Homo sapiens: one gene and its partner. The protein of the gene in region 1 interacts with the protein of each later gene in a pairwise test. Each region holds a gene or a part of one and is shown on either strand. Other genes may lie near its edges.

Region 1 (3,658 bases):
ATAGGAAAATAGCTAAATGTCATTCTCCATCTCTTTGTTTTAGTTTACTGCTTCCATGTGCAATCCTAAGCATTCTTTGCTGGGGCAACTAAATGTATCTTTATTAGTGACTTCTAGTCCAAATATAAGAAACTGTCATGTTTTGTGGGAAAATAATTTTATAATCCATTTAAAGTGAAAGTTTATCACACAAATAGTACACTTATTTTCTAACCAAATACTTGATAGGTTATGCTACTCCAGTGTAGATGGCCATTCCTAACTTGTTTGTGCCTGAAGATGGACTTGATTCAAATGGTTTACATATTTAGTGGGTAAGGGATATGTTACAGTACCCCACCTGTAAGTTATTTATTAGCCCTAATTGTGTTTGATTTCAGACAAAATTAACCCTTTTCTCCTGTGTATCTTTGAAGTGGCAGATAAGGTGAAGCATCAGACTGGTATCAATATTAGACAATGTTATTTATTAGCCCTAATTGTGTTTGGTTTCAGACAAAACCTTTTCTCCTGTGTATCTTTGAAGTGGCAGACAAGGCGAAGCATCAGACTGGTATTAATGTTAGAGAATGTTCTGAAGTGTTCCTATTTTGTAGTTATCTATTCCATTTGACATAGTAGAAGGTACATTTTCTTTCTACTCTGATGCATGGGGAAGGATGTTTTTGGACATTATCAACTGAGATAGGTGGGAAACCTCCTCTCATTTGTGGCTTAGAGAGCTATCACCATTTCAGAACTATGATGCTTTTCTTCTCAGAACTTGTGTTAAGTAGATAGTAAACAGATTGATTCATGATAATTGTCCTTGACTAAGACTGAAAAGACTAATGGGATGCCTTTTACTTTGCTAATTTTAAAAACTGGTGATAGATGTCAAATCCATTAATTTATTTAAACTCTTCTTAACCTTCTCTTTTATAATCTGTTCTCAGGTTTTAACTCCATGTTTACCATCATTTGCAAAAAGGTACCAAAAAAATCCATAAATAAATATGGAATACATTCATAAGTACATACATTCTTTTGGTATAAAACAATATTTTGACAGTTTAGGCTTCATTAATAGAACTATTCTGATTATTTGGACTGCATTAATTGGTCATTGACTGGCCATCCAATTACCATTTTTTCTTTCAGTCCAAAATAGTTAGACCCTTGCATACAGAAGTGGTATTTTGGTTTTTAATCAGATTTGGTTTCATCAGAAGCAGCAAGAATGGACCTGATGTCTTTAAAAGCATAGCCGACAATGGTAGCTTCTCAAGTTATGAAATAAAACTGAGAGATAATGGAGAAAATAATTTTTATGGGTTTTTTTGGTTATGGTGCTATTCCTAAGGTTAACTTTGAATATGTGACACACACACTCCTAAGTACCTTTAAGGAAAATTAATAAATCATTAATAGTTAAAATGTTTACATTGAGCACTAGAACATGTTTGGCCTTTTTTTTCTACGTTATGCAAAATGCCCAGGGATTTAATGCACAGGTGTACTTTAATGTTTAGGGTCAGTTTGTAGTATTCTTGAGAAAAAGATAAAGGGTTATAATTTGAATGTGAACTGATCCAGAAATAAGTGCTGTACCTTTCCACTGCACTTGAAGTTCAACTTAATGGTGTATGTGAAAAACAAAAACTACTTTGGTTGTGTATGTCCAAAGTCCTATGGTTTTATTCATTTATGGTTTTACAGGCTTTGAAGTACTCAGATTTGATTTTTGCTTTCTTGGAAAGACTCACTTTACCAAGCATATAAAGGAAAAATGATTTCAAACATTGACAAGATAGATGAGTGTTAACAAAGCTTTCTTTTTTCGTGTCCTCCTTATTTAAAAAGGTATACTTACAATGTGAAGTAACTTATGAATAAAAGGAAAAGTTTATCCCATATTCAAATAATTCCTAAGGTCAGCCTCCCTTTTTGTAAGTGGCAAATATCTGATTAAATCATTTCTCAGTTTATTAATCCTTGGAAACAATGATATAGCAGTTACTCACAGCTTGTAAATTACAACAGAAAGGTTCCTTTCAAATAGTAGAGCTGCACCTAAAGAGGAAATTGGGTTTATAAGAAAATGGAGGCAAAGAACTTAAGTTTTAAGAAAAAGCACTTCAAAACAGAAGGGCAAATGGAAAAGGGGAATATAAAACAAACCAATAAAAATACCATCTGAGGGTGTTACTGTCCAAAAGTAAAGAATAAGATGCATCACTAAGCCCTTTGCACTCGTTATGACCTCGTAAGTAAAAATTATCACTTAGAATAAGGGGTGCACACTACATTCCCTCTGTCTTCTAGACTTTTTTTTTTGTAGAAGAATCAGAAAACAATTTACTAACCTCCCTGTTTGATATTAAAAATAGGAAGAATTTTAATATTTTCTGTTAGTACAAGTTGAACTTGATTGTGCCAACTGAAACCCCAGAGGTTTGTATATCAGTAGAATGCAAGAACATTGTTAAAGGTGCTTACGATCTTTTTTGTTTTCCTTTCCACTCCATTGTATCAATTTTTTGAGTAACTTTTAAATGGCTAGAAAATGGTCTTTTTGCTTTGCCCTTTTAAAGCTGAAATAACCAGCTCCATTCTTTTCATGAATAGTAAGTTGATATATTTATTTATCAGGTATCTTGCAGTTGTCACCAAATACTGTAGTTTTCTTATGTTGTATGGAAATTATAGTTCAATTATTTTAATGTGATAGAGTGCAACAAGTCATTGTAGAACTTTTCACCTGTTAATGTTGAAGTTATACCTCTGAATTTCTGCTGTGGATATCAAGGAAATAATAAAGCAGAAACCCCAAGAAATTTGCAACTTAACAGTTTGAGACTGTCTCTTATCCTAGTATTTGGGAAGAGAAGGAATAAATTTGTCAAAACTAGGTGAGAAAATAGAGCATTGTGGGAAAAACTGAGTCCAACTAGATTAGCAAATGTTAATTCCTAGCTCAAACTGTGAATAGTAAGGATTGAAAAGTAAAGTATGTAATGCTAAGGGCTGTGTTGTCTTTTCTTACGATTTTAAGTTTTAAAGGCTGTTAAATTACAGAGATGTTGCCCAAGGATACATGGGGATTCTCAAAAGTAAGAGATTTTTACCTTTTTCATAATCTGCCAAGCTGGTTCCTAATATATTGTTAAATTGGTAGAAAAATATCTTTAAATTGGTGTCTGCTCAAGAATTGCTTTTCTAGATTTGATGGAGGGAGGGGGAGAGTCACATCATTTGGATTCTACCAATCTGCAGGCTCTATCTTTGGCAACATGTAAATAATTAGACTATACATCTGTTTCTCAAGTATGGCAAGACCAATAGTTTGAATTTAATTATCAATGCTATGGTATACTTTCTGGTCATATTTTAGTTATGTCAGTTTTAAGGTAAGTTTTTTCATTTATTAAAGCCCTTAAATGAGATTTTAGACTGCCAAAGAGAAGAGGCAGTCCAATTGACCTAACTGAAATGAGATGACCAGTATATAGAGCCTAGATGGACTGTAGCAGCTCTACCCCTTTGTTTTACAAGGTAAATCATTTTAAAAATTACCTTTTTTGATCAGTGGGTAAAAGTTAAAGGGATCTTTAATTTTTGATATATTCAAGTTAATTTTCTAAATGTGAATCAGTCCTTGGACTGCAACTATATATTC
Region 2 (3,658 bases), on another chromosome or scaffold:
AAATGAGATAATGGAAAAAAATAGAAGAGTAAATAAAGAATGGTGGCTGAAAATACTGGGGAGAAAAGTAAATGAAACATAGAAAAGTGAATAAAATTTAGAAAAAAGTCAAAGAATGTGAGAATAAGCCTAAACATCTAGCAAAGCCAGTTGATGAGGTCCCCTTGAGGAGAGTGGAATGGTATGGAGGGAAGGGCAGGGCAGGCCATGAAATCCTCTTGAGTACTATTCCTTCCTACTTGATTCCATTGCCTATGCTCCTTGATCCTCAAGTTTTGCTTCTGTATAATAAGGTTAATGATATCTGCTCCAGGTGATTGTTATGAAGATTTTTTTAAAAGGTGTATTAAAGATTCTGATGCTCAGTAATTAATGGTCCCTAACCTATACAAGGAGATCCACTAGGGAAACTTGAAAATTCAGTCAGCAATAAGAGAAGCCTTATTACAGAGTCCATTGGCAGAAAGTCTGCATTGAAACGGGTTGGGCAAAAGCAGCAATTTATTCATGTCTTACAAACATGGTCTTACAAACATCATACAGAGCTGGCACAAAAGAACAGACACTGTCTCACACACCATGCTTCCTTCCAAAACACTTCTATTGAGTTACAACATCAGAACAAATCAATTACTGAGTTACACAGTTCTTCAAACATGTATACCTCCCCATTTGGGTGGTGAGATTGGCTAATCAGACAAACAATTAATTTACATGTTTAATACAGTGCAGGATTTGTAACAGGATTCAAGATATTCACATTGATATTGTAATACATTCTAAAACAGTACATTTTCAGAAATGATGAAATTAGGTATTAAGATCTCCCTGCCTGTTTCAATTCCTTTGTTGTTTCTTTTCTCTTTTCTGAAAACCAGTTGCAAATAGTTTTACTCAACTTTTCACACTCAAAAACACTTTAAATTTTAAAAGCTAAAAACTATTTACAAATTATCCATTTTAATTTTAAAAATGTTTGTTGTTGGTTTCATTGTTCCATGTTAAAAAAAAAAAAATCGGCCTCGTCCAACAACCATACCTCAGCTGCTACCACCATTAACTTCTGGCTGCCGTGAAGAATACTTAGAATTGGCCCCTTACAACTTTTCAGAGGTCCAACATATATTCTGTTCCACGGCCCATGATACCAAATGCACATACATAAAATGGCCATTTGACTTCCCCAAACTACACACCTACTACAGTTCATTTCATGTTGCTTTCACAGAGATGCCGAGTGGAGCAAGATGCTGTGAGGTGACTTTGTAGTGGAATGAAGACAATGATTGGGAAATATGCTTTTTTAATCCCAAAGTCATTTTAAAGCACAAAAAAGAGGTTGATTTTTAATCTTTGTACATACAGAATGTAATACATTTTCTTTACATTAGGCATAGTCATAAAAAGCATGTATAAGTTGTTTGGAAAATGCATTTTTCATAGAATTTACAAACACTGTGATATCAAACACATTCTCAAAAACTGCTAAAGTACTGACACAAAACCTGACTCAAAATGTAAATTTTTCAGTAGACTTAATTTCTAACTTGCATATTTAATAATTCAACTGTACTCAAGTTCCACTCATACTTCTCTAAGAACTCAAATATAGTGACATTACTCTCAAGCTAATTCTTTTCAAATAATCACAGGGTGCAGCTTTAATCTAACAGGTTCTGAATGAATTTCAGAACCCTGGCACTGGAAAATGATACAAGACACAAGTCTGTAAACTGCTCTATAGACAACAGCTCAAGACAAATTAGCCTAGAAAAGATAGTGAAACACATTCTTTGTTGTGCTAATTTGACAGCCTAAGCATATTTTGCGTGAACATATGTAAATTATATTAGAATTGCTCTTGAACGATTTTGTAGTCTTACATTTGTTTGTTGGTTAAGTAACACTTTTTATCTGGCAATGTAAAAAATCTTCACAGTCTTTTCAAGTAGCATCTTAATCTTTTCTGGGGGACAATAAATTAAATGAAGACTTAGGTGGCCATGCCGACTCTGGGTACAAACGATGGCCTTAAAAGTACACTTGCACACTATACCTATTTCCTATAAGAAAATTGCACTTCTAACTGGATTTCTAGTTGAAGTTTATTTCTTTATTCACTAACTAATTCAACAATTTCACAAAGGTACATAGGGATTTCTCAGGCCACACTGAGGCTTGTGACAGGCAGTGAATAATCCAAGGCCATGGTTCTTATGTGAGGTTATATTTTACAAAATTTTGACTCACATGTAACCTTAGGGGGGAGAAAAATTATATTTCAGCCACAGTGTTCTCAACTCAGCCCTTTGATAAAATAATTTCTCAGCTTGTTCACTGTCCTTTTGAAATGAATCTGAGTTACTCTTATGATAAAATTGCATCAAATAATTACAAACCAAACTGAAATGACCAGATACTTTTATATGCAGGACAACCATTTGCACATGACAGAATTAATAAATACAAACTGGAGGACATTTTTTTAGTATCTTTGGATTTAAAGAAAAATTGATTTCCCCAACCTGAAGATAAATGGATAAATTTTCACAAGGCAAGGCATACTTTTCGTTTTTAAATCTTAATCACATTAACTTTTTGTGACATGTTCCAATGAGATTGTCACATTTATAATTTGGGATTCTGGCACAGTATTCATAAAATGTCTGACTATTCCTAGTTATATCACTGGTAATCTGAAGGAGATATTGAATATCTTATGAAAATTTATCCAACTCTTCTAATAAATAGGGAAATTATCATAATACACATTTGAAGTTACTTTCTGGTCTACTAATTCAATCCATTTCTAGCAACAACAACAACAACAAAAAGGTAGCTTGATTTCCCAAGCTTGCAATCCAATATAGAAAGAAAGAAAATTTCTCCTTGCCTAGTAAAAACCTTTAAGTTCCAACTCACGGCTAGGATGCTAACCATCACAGAGCACGTGCCACTTGGCAATTTGTCTCCTGGGGTAGTCACAGATCTCTTTCCAGTGCTCTCCACCAGTTCCTTCTGCTGCTGCACCCAAGACTAACTGCCCGATTACCTCATTTCGGGACCCCCTTTCAGAATCCAAAACCAAAAATTCAACACTTATATCTTCAAGGCCCTCACAAGGAATATCAAAGACAAACAGCTCATTGAACACTGCATTGGGGGTGCATTTCTTCACATGAGTCTTCTTCTTGGAGATTCTCTTTTTGGCATGGTACAGGTTCACTTTGACATAGGGATCTGCAGTGGAACATAACAGGCATTACAATGGCATAACTGGGCTGGAGAGCTGATATCAAGATAACAGTGCCCTTAGAGATCATGGCATGCCAATGACATGTGGTTACCAGGAAAATAAGTCAAAACAACAGAAAAATATGGATAAAACTTGGCATTTCTCTTGTCAACAGAATTGAAAATAAGGAAGAATATGGAAAATAAGAGAAAAAAGTTCTAAATTAGAGAATAAGGGAAAAAATTAATGATAGGAAAAGAAGTAACACAAAAGGAAAGAAAATAGAATGTTCTATGGACCCATTCTGATTACTATTAACTTACTCCAGAGAATAGGATAGAAGGAAAAAAATATATTAGACAACATGTAGCTTTACTGACTTGTATGACTTTGGGTGAGTCTATTTCCCTGACTTTTGGCTGT

What was found.
Region 2: the proteins of BRWD1 (region 1) and SYT4 interact in a two-hybrid assay, tested with the Homo sapiens proteins (one large-scale study listed by BioGRID and IntAct).

What each region holds. Positions count from the first base shown.
Region 1 is NC_000021.9:39,191,589-39,195,246, reverse strand, and holds part of BRWD1 (bromodomain and WD repeat-containing protein 1), read left to right. Parts: 3' UTR 1-3,658. UniProt on the Homo sapiens protein: May be a transcriptional activator. May be involved in chromatin remodeling. Plays a role in the regulation of cell morphology and cytoskeletal organization. Required in the control of cell shape.
Region 2 is NC_000018.10:43,267,409-43,271,066, forward strand, and holds the end of SYT4 (synaptotagmin-4), read right to left. Parts: intron 3,241-3,658; coding exon 2,933-3,240; 3' UTR 484-2,932; downstream 1-483. UniProt on the Homo sapiens protein: Synaptotagmin family member which does not bind Ca(2+). Involved in neuronal dense core vesicles (DCVs) mobility through its interaction with KIF1A.